Regions from separate parts of the Homo sapiens genome. Here region 2 is linked to region 1. A link means that fine-mapping ties the variant in region 1 to the plasma level of a protein whose gene starts in the linked region. Region 1 holds a variant in brackets. A gene starts in the other region. All regions are shown on their reverse strands. Region 1 overlaps SMAD3 (SMAD family member 3). Region 2 holds the start of MEPE (matrix extracellular phosphoglycoprotein).

The links. A credible set is the group of variants that fine-mapping cannot tell apart. PIP is the posterior inclusion probability: the model's chance that the variant is causal. Protein levels are from antibody-based Olink assays in UK Biobank. Linkage for the fine-mapping came from a reference panel and not from the study's own genotypes, which makes the PIPs less certain.
Region 2: it holds the start of MEPE, and the variant in region 1 is the best candidate, but not a certain one, in a credible set for the plasma level of the MEPE protein (UK Biobank, PIP 0.90).

The regions. Positions count from the first base shown.
Region 1 is chr15:67,117,584-67,125,583 of GRCh38, reverse strand. All of the region lies in intron 1 of SMAD3 (SMAD family member 3), which reads right to left. Among named protein-coding and RNA genes, the nearest start is that of SMAD3-AS1, 25 kb to the left of the region's middle. RefSeq lists enhancers at 4,210-4,649, 4,628-5,485. The variant A/C (reference allele first, on the strand shown) is at 3,011.
Region 2 is chr4:87,825,455-87,842,257 of GRCh38, reverse strand. It overlaps MEPE (matrix extracellular phosphoglycoprotein), which reads right to left and starts at 9,289. Exons shown (of 4, transcript NM_020203.6): 1 at 9,244-9,289; 2 at 7,490-7,555; 3 at 3,573-3,626. The coding sequence starts at 7,543.

The DNA.
Region 1 (8,000 bases):
TAAAGTGAAAAGGCCCAATAACGCCTAAAAAGTGGTTAACTCCTATCATTCTGTTCCCACCGGCTTCATCCACCCACGGTGGGCTACAAGAGTGGTCCTGAGGCCAGGTCACAGGACTGACATCTGGCTCAGCCAGTAACAATGAGGACAGAGGTCCATGCATTCACTGGGACTGGAGAAGGTGGAAAGCAAATGTCCTATGGGGTGATCCCAGAGAGAAGATCGTGGATCTAGCCACAGAAAGGCAACAGCGCTTCAAAGAGGCTCTCCGTACACACACTGGAGCCGCTCTTAATCTCTATAAAGAAAGAAGCGGGTGGATCAGCAACCAGAGCTGCCAGGCCAGGAGGTTCAGCAGCAAACCCAGTCAGTGCCCAAGCAAGAACTGTCCAGAGGGGAAGGTCCGGCCCAGCAGTGGGTGGGCCTGGATGGCATACGGGGATGCACCCAGCCACCAGGGCCTGTAGCCATTCAACACAACTGCTTCCCATGACTCCCTCCCTCCCTTTCCCCGACCCACCCAGCTCTCTGACCATTTGGCTGGTCGGGTGGGGTGCCCATAAGCAGACAGAGCACCCTGGTTATAACCTCACAGTGGTTACGCTTGTCAATAAATATGCTTGATGTATGCTTTAGCTTTTTGCTAAGAGACAGGAGCCCTGACTCCAAGACTGATGAAATGAGGTTTCTGAATTGTTCAGGCCAGGCTCAGATGCCAGGTAAATTCACCAAGCTCAGGTCCATCTTCTGGCCACCAGCCTCTCCCCGGCTGCCCTGTGCCACATCTTCTCTTCCAAGCCCTCTAGATGCCCCTCATTCAGGCACAGAGCAGAGAGGTTTTTCAAGATGTTTCAACATCACAGGTAGAGGTGTACCTTTGAAAGCTAATTAAAAGCAGAAACTTCACTGTCAGCCCTGTTTAATTTCTATTCAAACACAGTCTCAGATGAGGCCTTGGTCAGCTGTGTGACGTGGTAATGAGGCATTCTGCTGATGAATATTCTCATTCACCAAAGGACAACCAAAATCTTTTTCTTTTTCTAATTCCCTTTGAAAATATTTCCAGAAAGTATTTGTCTACTCTTCTTCCTCAACAAGTCCATCTTCTCTAAAGATAATAGATTTTTTTTTTTCTAAAGACTGACAATCCTCCAGCCTCTTGGACCCAGGTTGTGAAGTTAATTCTCACTGTGGAGATCAACAAGCTGTGTAAACTGCAGAGGTGGATGGCTGGCCGGGTCATCTAGACACCTCAGGGCAATCATTAGCAATGCCTTCTTTCAAAGGAACAAAAAAGCTGGGTGTGGTGGCATATGCCTGTAATCTTACCACTTCAGGAAGCTGAGGCGGGAGGATCACTTGAGGCCAGGAGTTCAAGACCAGCCTGCCCATGATAGCAAGACCTCTTCTCAACAGAAAAATACAAAAATTAGCCAGACGTGGTGGCCTGCTTCTGTAGTCCCAGCTAATCAGGAGGTCAAGGCTAGAGGATCATTTGAGCCCAGGAGTTTGAGGCTGCAGTAAGCTATCATTGCACCACGGCACTCCAGCCTGGGTGACAGAGGGAGACTCTGTCTAAAAATAAGAGACGAAAATCCAAAGGAACAAAAGCTTCTAAATAAAATCGACAACAACCTATTTTCCAGTGATTTGTTTCAGTCTATTCTACAGCATATCCGAAAGTTGGAAAGCAGGACACACTATTTTCCCTTTGTTTCCAGGCTTTTTGGATACTCTGGGATGTTTTATTATAGCTTTTCAGGTTAGCAGTTGAACCCACTGCTTTAAATGTAGAGGTCCTTCACCTAAAAAGAAGGCAAAGGGTTGCAGAAAAACATTGAGTATATTCTTTGGAAATGTCAAAAAAAGACTATTTCAAAATAAGTTTGTCCGTCTCCCAATTTTGGGGCATCCCGTCTATCTGAGTGCCTCCTATGTACTGGATTCTATACTGTAAAATTAGAATGCTGGCTGAAGGTGATGATAAGCTCATAATATTAATGGCTACTATTTACTAACACTTGTAATATGCTAGGAATTGCAGTCAATCTCAAACATGTTAGAATTCTTTTTTCCTTTTTTTTGAGACGGAGTTTTGCTCTTGTTGCCCAAGCTGGAGTGCGATGGCACAATCTTGGCTCACTGCAAACTCCTCCTCCTGGGTTCAAGCGATTCTCCTGCCTTAGCCTCCCGAGTAGCTGGGATTACGGGCGTGTGCCACCACACCTGACTAATTTTTTGTATTTTCAGTAGAAACGGAATTTCACCATGTTTTAGCTAGGCTGGTCTCAAACTCCTGACCTCAGGTGATCCACCCGCCTCGGCCTCCCAAAGTGCTGGGATTACAGGTGTGAGCCACTGCGCCTGGCTGATTTTTTTTTTTTTTTTTTTTTTTGAGACAGGGTCTCACTCTGTTGCCCAGGCTAGAGTACAGTGGCGAGTTCACTGCAGACTTTAACTCCTGGCTCAAGCAACCTTACACTGCAGCCTCCCGAGTAGCTGAGACCACAGGCTCACACCACCATGCCCAGCTAATATTTTTAATTTTTTGTAGAGATGAGATCTTGTTATGTTCTTGTTATGCTGGCCAGTCTGGTCTCAAACTTCTGGCCTCAAGCGATCCTCCCACCTCAGCCTCCCAAAGTACTGGGATTACAGGCATGAGCCACCATGCCCGGACGCAAGTATTTAAAACAAATTCACTGAGATATTTTATCCCTGTTTTACAGATGAAGAAACTGAGGACTTAGAATGTTTAAGTCCTTGTCTGAAGTCCCATAACTTACAAGTGGTGGGGCCAGGATTTGAACCCTGGTCTGTAGGATCCCAAAGCCCTATTCCTTACCACCCTACATAGGGACCACAGGGAACATCATTGCTCTGTGAAAAAAACCTATCCTTGTCTATGGAGTGATTACTTTCCTAAGAAAGTCAGGTAAGTCCTGGCTTGAAAACAAGTTTAAGAGCCAGCTCAGCTCTTAGCTAGATGCAAGACCCTCAGCATCCCCTC[A/C]CCTCTCTGGACCTCAGTATTTTGGGCAATGAAACTAGTATATCATTTCCTGTGACCTCTTTTGGCTCTAACAAATGGCCAAAAAACCCAAGAGATCACCAGCTCCATAAATCCCCCGATAGGAAATGGGCCAAAGGATTACCGTACGGAAAGCAGTCCTGACTTGCTCATTCCCAAACTCTGGTGAGGAAACCAAGAGAAACCAGCCACCACCCACAGCTGACAGGGTCTGGGGGGAACAGCAAAAGAGCTGACCCGCACAGTACCCCCAGGCTAACTGAAGAGTCCCTGAAGCCTACAGATCAATTTCTCTTTTCTAAGAAGGAAAGGGGAGTATAACCTTCAGTTTCCTCATGTGTAAAATGAAAAGGTTTCATCTGTTCATTCTTCTAAGTGGTCAACTTAACCTCTGTAGGACTCAGCTTCCTCATCTACAAAATGGGGACATATGTCCGGACCTTAGACCAGTGCTACCCAATAGAATTTTTGGTGGTGATGAAAACGTGCTGCTCTATATGAGCTGATCTGATGGCCACTAGCCTACCCGTGCACTTGAAATGCGGCTGGTGTGACTGAGGGACAGCATTTGTAATTGTATTTAATTTTAATGACCCAACATTTAAATAGCCACATGAGGGTGGTGGATAGGTATCGGACAATATAGCCTTAGACTGTAGTGGCAGGAATGAAATCAGATGGCATTTGTAAACTGCCTAGCACAGTGGTGGGACACAAAGTTCTGGAGGAAAAACATGCATGAATATGCAGAGGTCCTATCAGTAGAGATTTTTTTTTAAGCAAAATTTCCTCATATCAAGAAATGGAGGCACTAGAAGCTGACAAGCACATACATGGATGTGTTAGAAAGACCCAGAGAAATCAGGCATACTGTAGAAACCATTCTCTCGGTGTATAGACTAAATGGCTGAAGGTCTGTTTTGTTTTCTTCACAAATGTTCTTGTCAGAAGATAAAAGAGAGCCGTTTTCAGCAAATCTAGGTTTTTATAACCCTAAACGCCCAGTACAAACTGCCCCAAGAGCAAGCTCTCTCTTCAACAAAACCTCCCGTCCTCCCAGGCAGCCACCCCCCGCCCATCTGCAGCCCTCCCCGGGGCCTCTGGGAGCTGCCCACCCAGAACGGAGTGCAACTGACATGTGGGGCACACCCTGCCAGGCACAGTCACTCGTGGGGGGAGAGCCACCCACGATGCCCTCAGGACCCACAAGGCCGGCTGGCAGTGGCCTGTGTCAGGAGTGCCCACCGGCACCCGCTGGCAGCCAGCCTGCGTCACAGCCCAACAGGAAACGAGGAGAAGAGAACACTGGGGCCGCGTGGAAATCCCCACTGGGCTCCACGCCGGAGGGTGACTCAGCGGGGCTGGCCAGCAAGCTGCCTCCCACCCCTCAGCCAGGACAGGGCGGGGGCTGCAGGAAACAGGCCTCCCGCCTCTCTGCAAAGGCTAAGAAGTACACATTCTTACATATTATTATGTTACAGATACAATCATGCCCTGCCTGAAAACATGCAAGACAAAGTCCCAACATATGAGATGGGGATTCAAGGTCCTTTTATAACAGAAAACGCACTTTCTCTAAGCAGGGGTGTCCGGTGTTTTGGCTTCCCTGGGCCACGATGGAAGAGTCGTCATCTTGGGCCACACATAAAATACGCTAACTAACGATAGCTGATGAGCTAAAAAATAATCGCAAAAAAAAAATCTTACAATGTTTTCAGAAAGTTTATGAATTTGTGTTGGGCTGCATTCAAAGCTCTCCTGGGCTACATGCGGCCCACGGGCCAGAGGGTGGACAAGCTTGCTCTAAAGGAAAGTCTTAGTTCAAGTCCTGGAGCAGCCATGAAGCTTGAAAAATTCCCTTCCCAATTTCCCAGGCCCAATTTCTTACCTGGTAGGGCCAGGGTGAGATTCCCACACTCTCCACGGAGTGTTCCCAGGCAACACCATTGCACAGTGCCTCTGCCCTCCTCGCAGCTAGCCCATCTGCCCTTCTAGACCACCCCACAGCACTTAGCAGTCTTAGATTATGGCGTTCATCATCCTAAACACAGACATTTTACCAGGCCTCCCACTCAGATACTGTCACCAGGACAGAGGCCATGCCTTACATCTCCAAAGTGAGTTTGATACATACAGGGGGTTTTAAAAATTATCCATCTATTGATCCAAAGAAACAGCATGGCATGTGTATAAGACTTGTTATCCTTGATACCCCTCCCCAACTCCAGGTCATGGCAGGGCTGCCTGAGCTGCCACAGGCTCTTATCACCTCTGTTCCCCACATCACGTTAAGCAGCCCAGGGCAAAGTCTGTCCCACACTGTTCCTCTTTTTCCCATAAAGTACCCAGTGTACTCCAGGGACTTACGGCTAGCAAAAGAAACAACAAGCAAGAAAGTGGGGAGGTCCTAGAAATCCACTCCTAGTGAGTTGCAAGAGGCTTACTAAACCCAGAGTCTTGGCCAGGGACAGTGGCTCACGCCTTTAATCCCAGCACTTTGGGAGGCCAAGGTGGGCAGATCGCTTGAGCTCAGGAGTTTGAGACCAGCCTGGGCAACACGGTGAAACCCCACCTCCACAAAATATACAAAAAATAGCCAGGCGTGGTAGCGTGTGCCTATAATCCCAGCTACCTGAGGGGCTGAGGCAGGAGGATTGCTTGAGCCTGGGAGGTCAAGGCTGCAGTGAGCTGTGATCGCACCACTGCACTCCAGCTTGGGTGACAAAGCGAGACTCTGTCTCCAAAAAAAAAATTCAAAGTCTTTACCCCTTGAAGTTACTAGAAAAATCCAACCTATGTTATTTCACTTTAAAAATATCAACTTGCTATGACTTTTTCCTTTCAGAAGCTCTCTTGGGCAATTCTACCTTTGGACTATAAGCTTCTTACAAAATAATTCATTTTTCCCATTCCCGAGTGTGTGCGGGTCTGAATTTTATGAATGTCTTTGGCAAGTCTGAGATAATTCAGCCAGGGTTCCATCCATCTGCTTCATAGACAGTTCCACTCACTTGGCCTCTGAAAGCACTCCATGCGCTCCCCACCCACGGTCAGCCCTTACCCAGGTCCCTCTCTGGCTCCCACTCTGTGGCACCCCCACCCCCGCCATGGCCCCAGCACAGCTGTGTGGCAAGAATAACCCAGCTCTCTGTGTCTACTGCCCACCTCCCATTGACTATGGGCCTCCCTGCAATGGGCTTCAGCCCCAACACTCCATCATGACTGCCCTTGCTAAGGTCACCTAGTGGCCTCCAGGTTACAGAATCTAAAACACATGGTTTTCAGGCCTTACCATTCTGGGTTCTCTGCAACATCTAGCACTGCTGCTCCTTTCCTCTTGCTGCAGGGTCTCGTCACTCACCTTCAATGTCACTGTGCACCATCTTGCTTTTCCTCTGTCTCTCCCTGCATTCCCTAAATGGGGCTGTTCTTCAGGTGCAGGTCTGGACCTTCTCATTCTACGCTCATATCCTCCCCAGCCCGGCCTCATCCATACAATGATGACTCACAAATGTATATCTCAGCTCAGACCTCTCCCCCAAACTCCACGCTCATCTATCCAGCTCCTTGGCCTGTGCTCCTGCTAATAGGTGCTCCGTAAATGTTTGTTGGTACACACCAACAGTTAACAAGCACCTGCTTGTGCATGATTCTGTGCTAGGTACAACAGGGGATGCATGTCCCTGAGCTCAAGGGACACAAAGAGGAAAAGTTAGGCAACATCAGAGAAAAGGCAGACCTCACCTGGCTTGGGTTCCCAAGGAAGGCACCATGGCAAAGACAGCATTTGGGTTGTGTCTTGAAAGACAGCTCAGAAACCAGCATTTTATCCTGCACAATGGGATGTTCACGACTCAGGACACCCACATCACATTGAGAGACTGTGAAGCCTTACCTAGCTATTTTAAACTGGTGTTTTGTGTTCCCATGCTGGATGAAAACCTCCTAGAGAAAGGCATTTTTTCTAAGCAGAGCTCCTTCCAGCGCCTTCCGTGACAATAGTGATCTCTTTACATCTCCCCTCACCCGATTCTAGTCTGGTATAAAAATGACACACCTTTGGACCCAAGTCTGCTGGCCCCAGTCCTGATCTTACTCTACAATGAGTTATTATCTTTTTGGAAAATATCAAAGCCCACCAGAAATCAAACAAAACAAGAACTTCTACTTAGTAGCAGAAAATACATGAGATCTGCTTTATCTAACCCTGGTAATAAACACTCTGAAGAGGAAAGCGCTATCCATATCTTTACTTATGCCACCTAGCCTTCTCTCAGTCTCCTCTCAGCTGGGCTGGACAGGCCCTCACTGGGCTCCCCCACTGCAGGGACCACACCAGATGACTTGTTCCGTGCCTATCTTCCCCGACGCTGTGAGTTAGTGGGCACCAATTGCTGTGCCAGGCAGCACCCAACACAAGCATGTTGAAAGAATGAATTTCAGACTCTCTCTTTTTTATTTTTTGAGACATTGTCTCACTCTGTTGCCCAGGCTGGAATGCAACGGTGCGATCTCAGCCCACTGCAACCTCCACCTCCAAGGTTCAAGCAATTCTCCTGTCTTAGCCTCCTGAGTAGCTGGGATTACAGGCACCCGTCACCACGCCCGGCTAATTTTTGTATTTTGGGCAGAGACGGGGTTTTGCCACGTTGGCCAGGCTGGTCTTGAACTCCTGACCTCAGGTGATCCACCCGCCTCGGCCTCCCAAAGTGCTGGGATTACAGGCATGAGCCACTGCACCCGGCCAAATTTCAGACTCTTACTAGAGAGTTCTGTACATTCTCATTACATGTGCTTAGTACTATGTGCTTCTATGTTATCATTAAAACATTACACTTGATCATGTTTCCAGGCATTTTTAAGCTAACAACAGCTCTCTATAAAGAAAGTTTGAAAATCCATGCTCGACAAACCACATCTCTTTCACAAGAGCTTGGAGGACTTCCCAGCAGGAAAGGAAACATCCTCACAC
Region 2 (16,803 bases), not on the chromosome of region 1:
GGGAAGCCAGGATCATAGGGAATATGTTGAGTGAAACAGTAGGCAGGAATTGCCAAATAGTTTTTCTTAATCCCTCAGTCCAGTACTCACGAGAGTAGCTGTGCTATGGAAAGAACACATGCATTAGAATCAGTTGTCTCACTGCCGTTTATGGGCTGTGTGATCTTGGGAGCATTATTTTACTTCTCTGAGCCTTAGCTTTTTTAGCTGTAAAATAAAAATGATATCTACCTTTCAGTATTTTGGGGAGAATTAAATGATTTTTATTAAATAATGCATGTAAAGCATACAGAACTGGGCATAGCCCTTTAATGAATGATAGTTTCTTTCCTAGATAATATTAATGATAGTCATGTAATTACTGGATACACAACGGTTTTCCCAGTCTCTGGACTTCTCTAATATTGGTTGTAGAGGCAGATGAAGATGGACAAACTCTGGACCCCCCTGCTCTTGAATTGCCCAAGTGTCATCCTCGGGCTGTGTGTTCTGTAAGCTTGTAGCCGTCGATGGGATGTTATCTGAAATAGATTTTGATTGGACTCTCTCTTTTTTTTCACTCCCAAACAGAAGTACTGTTCTGCTTGGAGGACTGTCTGCTTTTATATATGTATCTTATTAACTGTTGGAAGTAGGCGGAAATGTTGAATCAGCTCACATTTGAATCTAAAATAAAAATGGCTTTTAGAAGTGCCCTCTACTTTTAAGAAGCTAGCTAATATATGGTCTGCAAAAGTGCCAATGTATAATATTTGTAAAATATAATTTGAAATTACTTATTTGTAAAAGTTATGGCATTATTGTTCATTAATTTTTTAATATTGGTGGGTATATTCTGAAATACGATTTTGCCATAAGAAAAAAATAGAAATAAACTTTGTAGTATATCACTAAATAAAAAGTATTTTAAATATTTGACTTGAGTAATTGAGTCCTGGAAAGTTTTACTTGGACATTTATGTTTTCCTTTGCAATCAAGTTCATTGTTGTTTGTTTACTCATTACTAAGATAACCTTTTGAGTTAAACACTAAATCTAAACTCAGTAGATTATAATAATCTCTTCCTAATTTTTTCTCTCCCTTGTCTGAAGTGGGAAGTTATGTTTTATTTTCGGTGCTTCTCTGCTTTTAAAAAAGTAACATGTACACTAATGAATTGTGTGCATTTTATTAGAAGACTGAGTAGAATAATTTTATAAATGAAAACATGAAACAACTTTTATCCTGTGGTATATGATGGCTATCTTTGCATTGAAGAAAATATCAAAAAATAGAAAAAAACTTTTCTTACATTTGCTTGTGTTAAATGATTTCTGACTGTTCGATGGTTTATGTACCAGTTGGCTGGCTGCTTTTCTGTGCTCTGCTTTTCTGTCTCCATGCTTTGGTTCCTATGAGTTTTTTCATGGAGAACGGCCTCACCCATTCACTTCTGTTTGCTCAAATCCTACTCATCCTCCATGGCCCCACACAATTATTTCCATTATGAACACCAGAGGCCAGGAACTAATTTCTTTCTACTCCAAGCCCTTAAAGCATGATCTTTTTTTTCTTCTCGGTACTACTCACATAGCACCTCCCACATTCTGTCTTGTTTTACAATAATTTTTGTAAGTGCCTTTTGTTTCTTTTCTAACTCTAAGATCCTGGAGAGAAAGAATTTGTTTTCTCCATCATTTTATCTCACATAGTATCTTACACACCAGTTAAGAACTCCACATATATTTGGCAAATGGATATGTTTTAACTTATTTATAGTTAGGTGTAGTCTTAGAGATGTCATCTAAAGGATATCGATGGCAGAAGAAAATAACATTCTGAAGGGAAACTATTACTTCCATGGGAAATAAAACCAGATTTGGAAAAAGTAAATAGCCCTTTTGCTGATGGCATTTCAAGCTATTTCCAGCCCTTTGGCCGATGAATCTACAAGAAGGGACTGAGTGAAAAGAATTATTGTCATTGTAGTGACAAGGGCCTCATTCTTTTACTTCTGAGCAACCCAACACAGATGGAGTTATCCATAGAATGAATTTAAGAGACAGTAAAATGTGTCACTCATTAGGCCAAAATGGTTTTTCCTCTTAGCCGTCCCCTGCTGAGATCCCCACCATCAGAGCATATGGTAGAATATGTCAAGAAAACTTTCTTATAAAACACCAAATGTTACTCAGAAGCAGTAACACAGCAGTCCATGGGCACCTGAGGTCCATGAGTATCACACCTGCAGCCACAGGTCCTGAAGCAGAGCGAGATGTGGGCCGAGGCATGGGATGGGGATCAGGAAGATTCTGGGACCCAGAGTTTTGTAGTAGAGAGGCTTGAGGAGCCTGGGGAGGGAGGGAAGGGACAAAAGTGCCAGCCATAAGACAGAAACCCCAGAGCAAGCAAAAGTAAACTTTGCCTCCCCTACATTTTCCTCTAGGGCTAGTCCAGAGTTTAGTCATGCTGAGAATGGTCATTCAGAGATTCAGCTTACCTTTACATCAGTTTGATTTTTCTTCTCAGGTGACATGTAAACACACTTAAAAACATAATGCCCATGTTTCTCATAGTGACCCTTGTATGTTATCTACAAAAACACAACATTATATTGAGGCACGTTTTATCTCTTACAAAGAAGTTTTTGGGCTCTTTGTAATAATATAAGAAACTTTAAAAGTTGGGTGAAGTTGAATTCTACCTCTGACAAATGGTAGTACTTCTTATAACCACAGGAGGGTGTGTGTCAGCCGGCTCCCGAAGACAGCAACTTGTTCCTTCTCTTTTCTACATAACTCTAAATCTGTTTTCCCTAAGGGCCTGTCAACTGCTTTCTGTCCTAGGGTGGATCGATTTTATTACCAAACGTCTATGGAAATGGAGCATGTGGAAATATTTTCAGGTGGGAGGGGGTGAGAGGACCAGGAGAAAGACAGGATTTACAATATTCATGTCTGATGTCTAATTGGCAAAACTCACAGCATGAACATTCAGGCTCTTAAGCTGGCAACGTTGGCCTTTGTAATTTTCAGCTGAGATGAAGTACAGAAGATTGTTAGTTCTTAGAACATAATTTTCTGTGATAGGCAGAAGCAAGCTGCAATTTGGTGGCATGCAAAGCGGGGAGGATTCATTTAACTGGATGCATATGGAAAGCTGACTCCACGGACATAGAATTCCCCATTCAGATCTGATAGCCACCTTCCCCTTTACTCCCTTATTTATCATTCTGAGAGCAAAGTGTTTGTCAGGTACATGTGTGGGAAAATATTGTTTGCTAGTAGCAATGTTCCCAAATTCTTACTCACTTAGCCCCATGAAGGTTGCCTGGCAAAGCATTGTTTCATTTGAAGGAAGAAATCATACTGGGGAGAAATAAATCTCTATTCACAATGTTTTCCTCTTTTCTGTCACACATGGTGTGTGAGTTACAATACCTGATTGACTAGAAAGTGCCAACATTATGTTGTATATTTTTTCACTTCCATTCAAAGTGCCCAAGACTATTTTGACAGTTACACTTTTCTCTTACTGACTTTTTCTTTATAGAGCTGAAATAGAGTTATTTGAAAAGATGAATTCTGTTTACCCTCTGCTCTTCCACACAGCTTTGCTTAGTTTTCTCAGTCTGTGGTTGAAATGTCTGAAAGGAAACAAGAAACAAAACTTCACCCACTAGAACATTCTATTTCATTAACTTCTTCAAACAAATGTTTCATTTATTTTTCTCTCACTGAGTTGTATTATTCACTGTGGAAAATCATTCTAACCAAAAGAAGATTGACACACTCATCGCATTAATATAATATTTGTTTCAATATTACGAAAGACAGTGCCAGCTTTCTGCCCCCAGAGGGAGACAGTGCCGTCTCCACTACAGAACTGGATTCAAGCTCAGACAACCGCTAAGTGGGTGTGGTGGGGGAGTAGGGAGGGATGGCACCCCAGACGAAGGAGCTTGGCTGCCATCAGAATCCACTGAAAAAGAAGTTTTCACTGGCAAACTGGGAGTTGTTAAATATAAGTGAACTAAAATCAGAGTTTGACGATTTAAATTGTGTGTGTGCATTAATTATATAAGTTGAGTAACTGTAATATTGAATTAAGATATGATGCTGCTGATGGCCCAGGGAGAGTCAAACCATAGCCGTTCATGTGAATGGTAGGATCGCAATTAAGGACAAAAACTTATTGCTGCCAGATGTTACATTCTGAGAAGGAAAAATGGAGGTGGCCAGCAGATTAGGATAAATTCTGTTTCTTGGTTTGACATAAAGTGTCAAAATTTCTTGAGGGTAGCGTAGGGTGAGGGGTAGCTATTGAAGCGCAGAAAGGGCAGAAATGAAGAAAGAACAGACCTCGGCAGTTTGTCCCAGTCCTTTGGGCTGAAGTTTGCATACCACAGGAAAGCACACAGAACAGGGACCCTAAAATCTGAGAGCAACTGTTTTATTAAAGGAATAGATGTAAGTTCTTTAATTCTCAGTATTTTTCATTTACCTCTTTCTTTCAGAAACTCCTAGCCTATCTCAGATGTGGCACTGGGAACCAATGGGCGGACTGGGCCGTGTTTGAATGGGTGTGCTACAGTGGAAGCAGGCATCATGGTGGATCAATCATATAAAAGAGAGAACCCCTTAAGGGAAAGATTGAATAAAGAGATAAACAGAAAGAGGGCCGCCTAGGCCAGCTGTCCTATTTACCTGGAAAGTGTTCTTCCTGAAGAAGCCTTAAGCTTCTATATTTTGTTTAATACAGACAGGTTGTTGCTTGCACTAAGATATTGGGAATGCCCCTGCTTGCTCTCAGCTCCTTTGTATCTCCAGCTCAATCTGAACTGATTCCTTCATTTCCCAAGCTCATTTGCCCTCTGTGTTCAGACTGGGTTTGGGTGAAGGAGGCCTGGCATGAGTCTGGAGGGGGGGAAGGAGAGAGAAGCCAGGGTATGTCCTTCTCTACTCTCCGTGTTTGGGGCTGCATCTCTAGAGTTGGGTACATCTCCTTTGTGGTCCTAGTTCCCCCAGCCAGGGGCCTAGGAGCAGCACCTTTTTTTTTCCTTCCAGCCCTAAGCCTGGTAATAGCTTCGATCCTTGGGTGGTCTCACCACCCCTGGTTGGCTTTTCTGTTCTTCCTTATACTTTATAGCTAGCTTCCCTTAGAAAGTCGCTCTACTGAGCTCCCTGTAGTGGATTTTGTTTTCTGGACTGGACTCTGGCAGATAAAATCATCTTCAAAATATAAAACTCAGAAGTTTAGAAAGCACCTCCATGGCTGGACTCCAAGGCATAGCTGCCTAATATTCAATTCCATTCTAGAAAATAACAATAGTTTATCAATAACACCTTCTATTTATAGGACTCTTTATAGTTTGTAAACTGCTTTTGTACTTATAATCTCATATGAGTCCCAAAGTAACCTTTATAAGATGAGCAGTAGAAGAAACAGAAGTGCCTACACTCATAGTTGGTAGTTGCAGTAGAAGTAGAGAAGATATTTTAATTTAAATCTTCTGCCTCAAAGTCCCAGGGTTAAAATAATAAATTTTTGAATGATTAAATATGAAAAAGCATTTAGTAATAAGAGGAAATGTTCCTAAACTTTATATTAATTATCGTCAAGGCATCTTTTATAGTTTTATCCTTTATTGCATTTCTTATGTTGATTCTTATATGATCATGTGAATATAAATTTGGACAATTATATCACTCTTCAAAAATATAAAACCAGGGCAAACAGTTCTGGAAATTGGACTATAGGAAGAAGAAAGCATAAAAATGAGATGGGCAGATATTAAGCAAAAGAAAGAAATGATAGTATGGGGTGTCAGGGATCTTCTTACAGAACACACACACACACACACATATGGATTAGAAACATACTTGACAATATAGAGTACCTCGGTACAGTTTTGATTTATTGTGACTTATAACAAAGTCTTTCTAGTCTAACTGCATCTTGATGAATATTAACCGAATTGCATAGCCTAATAAACATTCATTTTCTTCCTTTTAAAAATCATTTAGAATTTGGCTTATAATTCTAAGACGTATGCAAGTGGCTGAGTATATACTAATTTCTTAAGCCACCAATCTATCATTTAAAAATTCAGGTAATTACTAAAATGGCATCTATATACCTGGAAGAAAACATCATATTTAATGATTCACAGTTACAAATGTTGCCTCTGCATCCTTGCTGAGCTGCTTTCATTTGAAATACGCATCCCTCCCTTGTCCCCTCTATACCCCCAAGCAGATGTCTTAGGCTTGAATGTGGCCCTGTAATGGAGATGGCATTGTCTGCCTCTGGGCAGGAAAGCTGGCATCCTCTTCTGATCAGTGGTCACTGAATCAATGTTGACATAGCACATTTACTGGAAAATGATGAGAAAGCCCCACTCCAGCTGCTTCTTGGAACATGTTGCTCAAAATAAAATCTTCAGCTGGCCAACTTGAGCTAGGTCAGCAAGACTCATTTTTCCACCGTGAGAGGTGGGAGAGGCACCTGAGCCTCTAGGCCTTGATTGAGTGAGGTCTGTGCATGGGGTCTCGCAAATGTGTGTTGTGAGCAGTACAGCCTCCACAGTACTGTACTGCACACCCTTGTTGCACAGAGTGTGTGCGGAGAAGGGAACACATTTCCCCAACTTCCACTGCCCTCCATGAGGCCCTCTGCTTCCCTGGTCATCCTCATCAGCCTGGTTACCCTAGCAGTCACCCACTCACTCAGGACCTATATATAAGTATGATTGGCAATGGGATGACTATTTGTTTCCATGGTTCTCCAACCAAAAAGGTTATTCTGATAAGTTAGGATGCTGCTCAGACATTATCTAATTAGCACTGTGTCTGCATTGCAGAAAATAACTAACACTCAGCATTTTCACAAGATAATTTGGTCACATCCTGAATATTCAACTGGGTGAGTCAGAGGGAAGAAAAGACACACAAGGAAGTAGGAGCTTGATTTGGGTTAAGCTTGGAGGTACTACGTCCCACCTCTAGCCTCGCTGATGAAGAGAAAATCACAAGTAGGATCCCACAGTATTGGGGTGTTGCAAGAAATACAGAAGAGTTCTTGTCTCTTTGCATTTTTATCTATTTACTAAATCTAGCTGGTTAGCTTTAAAACATTCATGTCAAATTCTTTAAGTTTACAGGAAAATAGTCAAAGATTATTTTACCATGTTATAATTTGAGTCTTTGAGTATCACTCATTAGTATCAGCTGATTTGAAATGCTGCGGCTGCCTCTTGGTTTTCTCAAAAAATCTGTTTTTGGTGTTCCTTAAAAGACAATGTTGTCAGATCTCATAATTCAGCACATGTTTATTGAGAACCTCCTTTGTTAAGAGTGTTAAGTGCTAGATGCTTTCTGTTTGCTTGGTTCTTTTTAAAATAACTGAATTAGGTAGATGCTACTAATTTAAATAGACGTTGCTTGAAAGAAAAACAAATGAAGAGAGCAAGAGATTATCTGAAATATAATTGAATTTGTAAATACTTACTGGTGCTGCCCAGGTCACACTGAAAAGGAGTAGTCCCACACAGAAAACTCGCATCTTTGAGAATCTCTGTAAAAAGACAACAATATCTTACCACAAAGCATTGCCAGTTATAAACTGCAGCCATAAGAAGAGATAAAACACATAGGAATATATAAACACCCTTCCCCTTGGCAGTTCATATCCTTTTGTGTATGTGTGTGTATAGACTATGTATAACTTGCTTATACCCGAGTGTGGACATTTTAAGAACTTTCATATGTCTAGTTATTCCAATGTGAAAATGAAAATTATTCAATATCATTAAAACAGTAAAGTCAGTTGATAGAAATATATTTTATAGACACATTTATTTGCTCTATCATCAGCTCTTCTTCCTCTTGTCTTTAGAAAGAGATTGTTTAATTATTTGTGTAATTCAAAATGACATTAAGTTGATGTAGCAGCTCATAACACACTCTAAGTTTGTCAGGGTAGCAGATTGCACTGTGAGGAAAGCTTATCTGCCTCCGGGCTGGTGCCCTAATCTGTGTCTCATGTTCATTAGCAATGTGTCTGAATTAGTAGCCATCCATGGGCTGGAGAGTGAACTAATTTTTGCAACACTGACATTAATGGCTAACATTTATTGAATACTAAAATGAGCCAAGCACTGGGTCTAAGAATTTTGCATGCATTCAATTATTTGAGCCTCACAACAACCCTACAAGTTAGGCGGCGTTACTATGCCTGTTGTATAGATTAGGAAATAGACACAAAAAGATCAAATAACTTGCTTTAGAATTCACAAATATTAAGGGGCAGAACTGGGATTAGTATCCAGGCAATGTGGCTCTAGACCCAGTTTTCTTCATCAAGACTCTCTGCCACCTTAAATAACTTTCTATTCTTTTATCTTATTACAGAAAAATCCATGTACAGTTGACTTAAAGGCAAATCATATTTTATATTGGGCTCAACAAAATGATGTTCAAAATACTAACATTTAGTTACAAATAAAGGTATTTGTTTATATTTTGGTAAATATACCAACAGGAACTAGTGAGCTCACTTAAGTAGCCATTAGATTGGAAAAAAGTCAACATGTCTTTGGACTATTGATCTTATTATTATATTGTGAAAACAATAAATTTATGCCACTCTGAGATTTCTTGAAGAAAAACTTGTTTTTATGGGAAAAAATAATCTAAATATTCTTGCAATCTTTAAACACCTCAAGGAAAAGCTGGTATTTGGAGAAATGATTGTAACTATTAAATATATTCTAAAATCCTAGGCTATGTTTTTCTAAATTAATGCAATTAGAAGGATCTAAATTCTAACTATAGTTTACCCTTCCAAGCATTTTATAGATCAGGACAACGTAAGTAACTTATGAAATGAGTTAATGCTCATCAGTAGAAATATCAACACAGATGAGGTTTCAAAGTATGAATAAGATCAGATTTTCCTGATTGCAGTTTGTTAAGTGAAGGGATAGAAGAAAACTGAAGTCTGAGTTACTGTGGATCTTGATAATGCTAATAACAAAAAAAAAGAGAAAGTTGCTATCAAATCATCAATTTTAGTTGATGATTTCTAGAGCATGGTAACGCATTTCCTATTTTATAAAACAAAGCACCAAATATTACACAGTTTTGCTCAGTAGAGAAGATTTTCAAAAGTAATAAAACCATACTTGGGTGGCAAGCATCTTAAAAACGTAAACAACTATGATATAAAGCTATTTGCTGTCAAGAACATGAAAGCCAAATTACCTGGTATCTTTCACCTTCAGAATACCTGGCTTCTTGTTGCAGGATTAGAAGTCTCTGGGCATTTTGCTGAAATTTAAAGTTTGTTAGAGTTCCCAATGGCCAATCAGCACTGGCTCACTCAGCGCTAGCAAACAATTTGTTACAAGCGCCCACAGATAACCATAGGGGGTGAAGTAATTTTAATCTAAAAATGTGTTTGTGGTAGAAAGCTACTATCAAATGTTCCAGAAAGTGGGATAAACAGAAAATATAAATACCTCAGTTTGGACATCATGTTGTCAGATAATCAAAATTGATTTCAGAACTGCTAATTAGGACTGACTGAATACCTAACAAGTTTAGAAATGGAAAACATTTTTGCTATCCTTTTATGTAGAAAGTTTATGATGTCAATTTTATCTAAGTGAAATTCAGCAACATTTAACAAAAATGTTTTAGGTGCCTACTGTGTGACAGGCATTGGCGAAACTGCAGTGAACAAAACAAGACAGAAAAAAATCCCTGTCTTCCTGGAGCTTAGAATCCAATAAGGGAGACAGATAATAAACAAGATAAATGAGTTAAATAGATTAGATAGTGACATATACTAAGTCTAAGGAGAAAAAGTATTGTTGGGGAGTAACAAGCATTGGGGGTGGGGACACTGGGTTGAAATTTTAGATAGGAAGTCCTGGGAAGGCCTCAATGAGAAGGCAACTTTTGAGTAAAGACCTTGTTATGGTTTCAATGTACGTGTCCCTCCAAAATTCCCATGTTAGAACTTAAACCCAAGGTGACAGTATTGAGAGATGGGCTCTTTAGAAGGTGATTAAGTCATGAAGGCAGACCCCAGTATGAATGGGATTAATGACCTTATAAAAGGGCAAGAAGAAACTAGCTAGTCCCTTTTTGCCCTTCTGCTTGTCTGCAGTGTGAAGACACAGCATTTGTCCCCTCTGGAGATGCAGTAGCAAGGTGCCAAATTGGAAGAAGAGATAGACAGCCCTCGTCAGGCAATGAACATGCTGGCCTCTTCATTGCGGAATTCCCAGCCTCCAGAACTGTGTGAAATAAATTTCTGTTTTTTATAAATTACCCAGTCTGTGGTATTCTGTAGTAGCAGCATGAACAGACTCAGATAAGCCTGCAGCCATATGACTGTCTATGGGAAGACCATTCCAGGAAGAAGAAATAAGAAAAATAGTGCCCCAGAAATAAAAGCCTTGTGACTTGTTCCAGGAACAGAGAAGAGGCCACTTTGGTTGGAGGCCTGAGCAAGGGGAATAGCAACAAATGAGGTCAGAAGGGTATTAGATGGCAGATGGTATAGGACCTGTAGGTCATTGCAATGCTTTTGACATTGCTATGAGTGAGAAGAAAAGTCCTTGGAGGTTTTAAGCACAGGCATGATTGAGGAGTGACTGAAGTAGGAAAAAGGCAGAGAGAATGGCTAGGAAGCTCTTGTAATAATCCCAGCCAGAGATGATGGAGGCTTGAACCTGAGTGCGGCAGAAGGGATGATGAGACGTGGTCATATTCTGAAGAAGTTTGGGGAAAAATGGTAATAGGATTTGCTGAGGTACCAGATGTGGCCTGTGAGAAAACAATCAAGAATCAGGATGACACCAAGGTTTTGACCTGAGCAACTGGAAGAGTAAAGTTGATTTTTTCTTCATATTGGAAAAAATGCAGAAGAAAATGGTTTTGAGGAAAATATTGTGAGTTTGGATTTAGACAAATTTTATAAGATGGACAATTTAAGACACTCAATTTCTTAATGAAACAAGTAACAAACCTATACTAGAATAAGCCTTTCCAGTGCGATTGCCTGCTCTCTTGTTTTGCCCAAACTGGCTACCAAAATAATTGTAATAGTTTGAGAGGTTCCACTTAATATAAAAATATTATAATACCTGTAAAGGTCATTGACATTATGACTATATATTAAAGCATCAATAAGAAATTATGTAAGAGTTATTTAACCTATACTTTGTGATAAGAACTACCTACAGTGAAACACACCTTTAACAGTTGTATATTATATATACAAATGATATATAATAAGATTTAAGTGTAAACTGTCAATTTATCTCAACCCTCCAAATAGACAAAAACCAAAACATAAAACACAAACAAAACAGTATTTCATAAGTTCTACCTGAGAAAATGGTGCCTTTTCTAGGTCAAGCTAACTCTCTCTTTTTTTTTTTTTATCATATCTAAATTCTGCTGTTCCTCTTTTGAGTATCCAGAGCTGCTTTTCCTCCTCTCCCTCACCTCATGTCTTCTTGTTAAAAAAATTTTTATTTAGGTTTGGAGGTACATGTGAAGGTTCATTACATAGATAAACACATGTCCCTGGGGTTTGTTGTACATATTACTACATCACCCAGGTATTAAGCTCAGTACCCAATAGTTATCTTTTCTGTTCCTCTCCTTCTTCCCACCCTTCACCCTCAAGTAGACCCCAATGTCTGTTGTTTCCTTCTTTGTGTTCATAAGTTCTTATCATTTAGCTCCCACTTATAAGTGAGAACATGTGGTATTTGGTTTTCTGTTCCTGCGTTAGTTTGCTGAAGATAATGGCCTCCAGCTCCAGCCATGTTCCCACAAAGGACATGATCTCTTTCATTTTTATAGCTGCATAATATTCCATGGTGTATACATACCACATTTTCTTTATCCAGTCTGTCACTGATAGGCATTTAAGTTGATTCCATGTCTTTCCCATTGTGAACAGGGCTGCAATGAACAGCCGTGTGCATGTGTCTTTATGGAAGAATGTGTTATATTCCTCCGGGTATATACCCAGTAATGGGATTACTGGATCAAACAGTAGTTCTGCTTTTACAGAACTGCTTTTAAGAACATCTTCCAGGACTAGGTTTGAGCTATTGGGTGGGGCCACTGTTGACTTACAACCATTCAAGCATAGATTTTAGAATATTTGAATATTGTCATTGACAGTGGAAATATTGAACTCTAGAACTCTAGTAGCTTTGGAGGCAAACAGACTTGAGTTCAAATCCTGACTCTACCACCTGTTTACTGTGGCAAGTTGATTAAACAACTAATTTGAACTTTTCTGTGCCTCAGTTTCTCCAACTGAAAATAAGGAGCACAGTATCCATGACCAGAATTTCAGCAAAGTCCAAAAAAAAAAAAAAAAAGGATTTGGGTGATATAGAAAGGAGCTAACAAGGGAATGGAAGTCAAGGAAGGAAAGAAGGCAACAAAGAGTGTTCAGCCAACTCTGAGACTGAATGGAAATATAGAGCTTTCTAAATGGAAGACAAGTGAAATCCACAAAAAATGCTCATTTTCAACTTTGGATATGCTATTGAAGCAATAAATAATTCAGGAATTTCTATAATAATGTGTATATAATGCAGTGTTTTAAGCTGTTACACTGTTTCATAACATTAACTTTATATTTTGAATGATCCAGTTATAGAGCAAACACTTGATATGTGCCTTAGGAAATGTTCATTTTTTTATTGCTATAATTTTATAAATAATTTCAGATATTCCTCAAATGCATTTTTCTTAGTTTCAAATAAATTTCAGTGTGCATGAAAAAGATTTCCCTTTCATTTGAGTGATGGAAAATTAATTATGATCTAGAAAAACCTGTGTTCTAGGATAAGAAAATTTATAGAGTTTTAAGAGAAAAAAACTGGCTTAGCTACTAGTCCTACCAAGGGGTGAACTGGCAGTAGCTAAATATACTGCTCTCAAAGCTAAAATGAATTCAAAGCTACATAAAAAAATTCAACTTGAGTTTTAAATTTAGAACCTACAATTGACAAAAGCAAAAAAAAATGAGAGCCTATTCTGGCTAGAAGGTTGCAGAGAAGAAATTCTGGGGAAAAAAAATTAGGAGAATGATCCTTTGCCTAAGTTCCATGCAGTAGAGATTTTTACTTCTACCCTCTTAAAACTTGCCCTCTGTGTTGAAATTGAACTTCAAAAACTCAATATAAGTTTCCTAAAGGTTATTGTATAATAGAGAGTTTTGCCATGGCATTTCTAAGGAACCAATAACTGAAGTTAAAACCAGGAGTCTGTAAAAAAAATATGTATCTTCACACCATCTCTATTTAACTGGAAAACAAAACAAAACAAAGAAAAATGGGAAACAACTGAGAAGGGAAAGAAATGGACACTTGAACTTTTTTCTGGTTCCTCGTTCCTGGTTCAAAAATGGACACCTCCACCAATGATGCACCTAGCCTGACTTTGCTGGGTCAGACTGACACACAGAGTTGCTCCTCAAAGAGAATCTGGAAGGAAGTACTCCATGGAACATGCTTCATCCTGTCGTGGGTTTTTCATTTCTTATCGATCACTTGAGTGTGAACAATCATATAAAATGCTAGCTAACTAGGAACCTATACTATCAGTTCCAGCTATTAGACTCTCACCCAGGAATAAGGCTTTTTTGTTTGTTTGTTTTATTTTCTCATCTATTTCTAGGACCCATCTTTTCTGTACTTGTGCTCTGGGATTAATTGCTTTGGTATACATTTTTTTTTAAACTTAGTATTCTAGGAAGTCCTTTTTCCCCTGCTATCATGGTCCCCAATTTATTCTTGACTCTATTAAGGTAACACATTTCTCTGTCATCATTTTAGACAGACTCACACAATACACTTTTCCATATGTTCTAACTAAAATAAGTTTCTGTTTTACATATACAATATACTTTTCTGTATGTTCTAACTTGCCAAAATAACTCTCTATCTTCTAATTTACATACATTACAAATATACAGTATTTCCCCTCCTGGATCAGTGGGGAAGTCTTTGAAGTGTTGTGAATAGAACAGAGGGGTCCATGTTGAGTAATCTCTTCTTTACCATACAGATGCTTAGATTGGTCAAGGCTTTAGGCATTTCATAGAAGTATTTACTTCCCACTGATATCCAAAATAAGAGTCCAGAATGAGTGTGCTGGGAGTCTTGCCCTGTTTTTAGCAGAAGGAATGTTTTCATTTTAAACGTGTTCATTCATGAGTATCAATAATCATCCTAAGCTCAAAAAGGTCACCTTTTCTAAAGCATCACTTACAACCAACTTTCTCCTTTACCCTCAAATTAATTTTATTTTTAGTTATTATTTTTTCTGTCAGCATTTGGGAATTTCAACAGAAGCCATAAAAATTTCAGCCAGATGCAGAATCATGGAGGGTCACAGCAGAGCATGAAGTTAGCTGTGTTCATTCCTCTGGGCTTTTTGTTTACCCATTCCTCTATTACAAGCAAAGAGAAGACATGTCAATATAATTTGCTTTTATTTTTATATTAGAGAGATGTCTTACTCCACCTTAAAATGTAACTCAGAGGATGTAGTTAAAATATAATTATAATGATGCTAGCCCTTTCCTTCAGGACATGGTGACATTGCTGGAAGTGGCTGCAAAACTTTGTTGTGTGACCTCAAGAGGAAAATATCTCTTACCCTCATAATAGTCTTTTTCAGAGGTTGCTGTTTTGTTTTTCAAGACCAAGAATCTTCTTCTCAGGATACAGAACTTGAGGACTTTTACCAGCTAGCTATTCATTGTATCGAACATGTATTAATATTTTCTTACCAAATTAGGGTGTATATCGTCTTAGCTTATTTTTAATTCCATGTTTATCTGCATTGTGTTATCATTTTATTTTATCTCTTTTTTCATGAATTCCTTAATTCTCACCAACCCAGATTTTCTCTATGCTTGTCAGTTCCTGTTCCAGTTATCTGTTGCTATAAACATACCACCTTAAAACTTTTCGTAGTTTGAAATACAAATTCACTGTTTTCTCTCAAGGTTCTGTGTGTTGACTTGGCTCAGCTGCATGATTCTCACTTGTGATTTCTCAAATGGCACAGTCAGAGATGGGGTGCAAGAGTCATCCCAAAACTTGACTGAGCTGCACATCCGATATGCCACAGTGCTTCTCCACATGATCACTCTGTCCTGCAGAATAGGCTGGACTTCCTATATGGTAGCTCAGGATTTAAAATGCTCAGTCAGAAATGGGATCTAATTAAACTAAAGAGCTTCTGCACAGCAAAAGAATCTATCATCCGAGTGAATAGACAACCCACAGAATGGGAAAAAATGTTTGCAATCTATCCATCTGACAAAGGTCTAATATCCAGAGTCTATAAGAAACTTAAACAAATTTACAAGAAAAAAACAAAAACCAACAGCCCCATTAAAAAGTGGGGAAAGAACATAATTAGACACTTTAGAAAAGAAGACATACATGTGGCCAGCAAATACGTGAAAAAAAGCTCAACATCCCCACTGATCATTACAGAAATGCAAATCAAAACCACAATGAGATACCATCTCACACGTCACAATTACTATTATTAAAAAGTCAAAAAAACAACAGATGTTGGTGAGGCTGCAGATAAAAAGGAATGCTTTTACACTGTTGGTGGGAGTATAAATTAGTTAACCATTGTGGAAGACAGTGTGGCAATTCCTCAAAGACCTAGAGGCAGAAATACCACTTGACCCAGCAATCCCATTACTGGGTATATATCCAAAGGAATGTAGCAGATCACGAGGTCAAGAGATCGAGACCATCCTGGCCAACATGTTGAAACCCCATCTCTAGCAAAAAAAAACAAAAACAAAAAACAAAAACAAAAAAAAAAACTGTTGTGGTGGTGTGCACCTGCAGTCCTAGCTACTTGGGAGGCTAAGGCAGGAGAATCCCTTGAACCCGGGAGGCAGAGGTTGTAGTGAGTGGAAATCATGGCACTGCACCCCTGCCTGATGACAGCGTAAGACTCTGTCTCAAAAAAAAAAAAAGAATATAAAGAATATAAAGCATTCTATTATAAAGAAACATGCACATGTATGTTTATTGCAGCACTATTCACAATAGCAAAGACATGAATGTGCATCAATGATATACTGGATAAAGAAAATGATATAAATGCCCATCAATGATATACTGGATAAAGAAAATGTGGCATGTGTACACCATGGAATACTATGCAGCCATAAAAAAGAATGAGATCATGTCCTCTGCAGGGACATCGATGGAGCCAGAAGCCATTATCCCCAGCAAACCAATGCAGGAACAGAAAACCAAATACTGCACGTTCTCACTTATAAGTGGGAGTTGAATAATGAGAACACATGGACACAGGGAGGGGAAAAACACACACTGGGGCCTGTTGGAGGTGGGGTATCAGGAATAATAGCTAATGCATGCTGGGCTTGATACCTAGGCGATAGGAGGTACTGTGCAGTAAATCACCATGACACACATTTACCTGCGTTAACAAACCCGCACATCCTGCGCATGTACAGACCTTAAAAGTTGAAGAAAAAAAGATAGTCGGTTAAAAATTAATTAACTGGATTTGTTGGTCTAAGAATAAAAGTTTCCATGCAAATTGAAAGCAGAGATTGACAGGCTAGTTTTATGGCCTAAGCCTGGGACTGTTGCACAGTTACTCTCCACTTGTTCGTCAAAACTGTCAGATTGAAGCGGGTGCAGAAATAGGCCTCACACCTTGATGGAGAAGTGGCAGCCTCACATTGCAGAATAGCTTGAGGAATGGGAGATAACG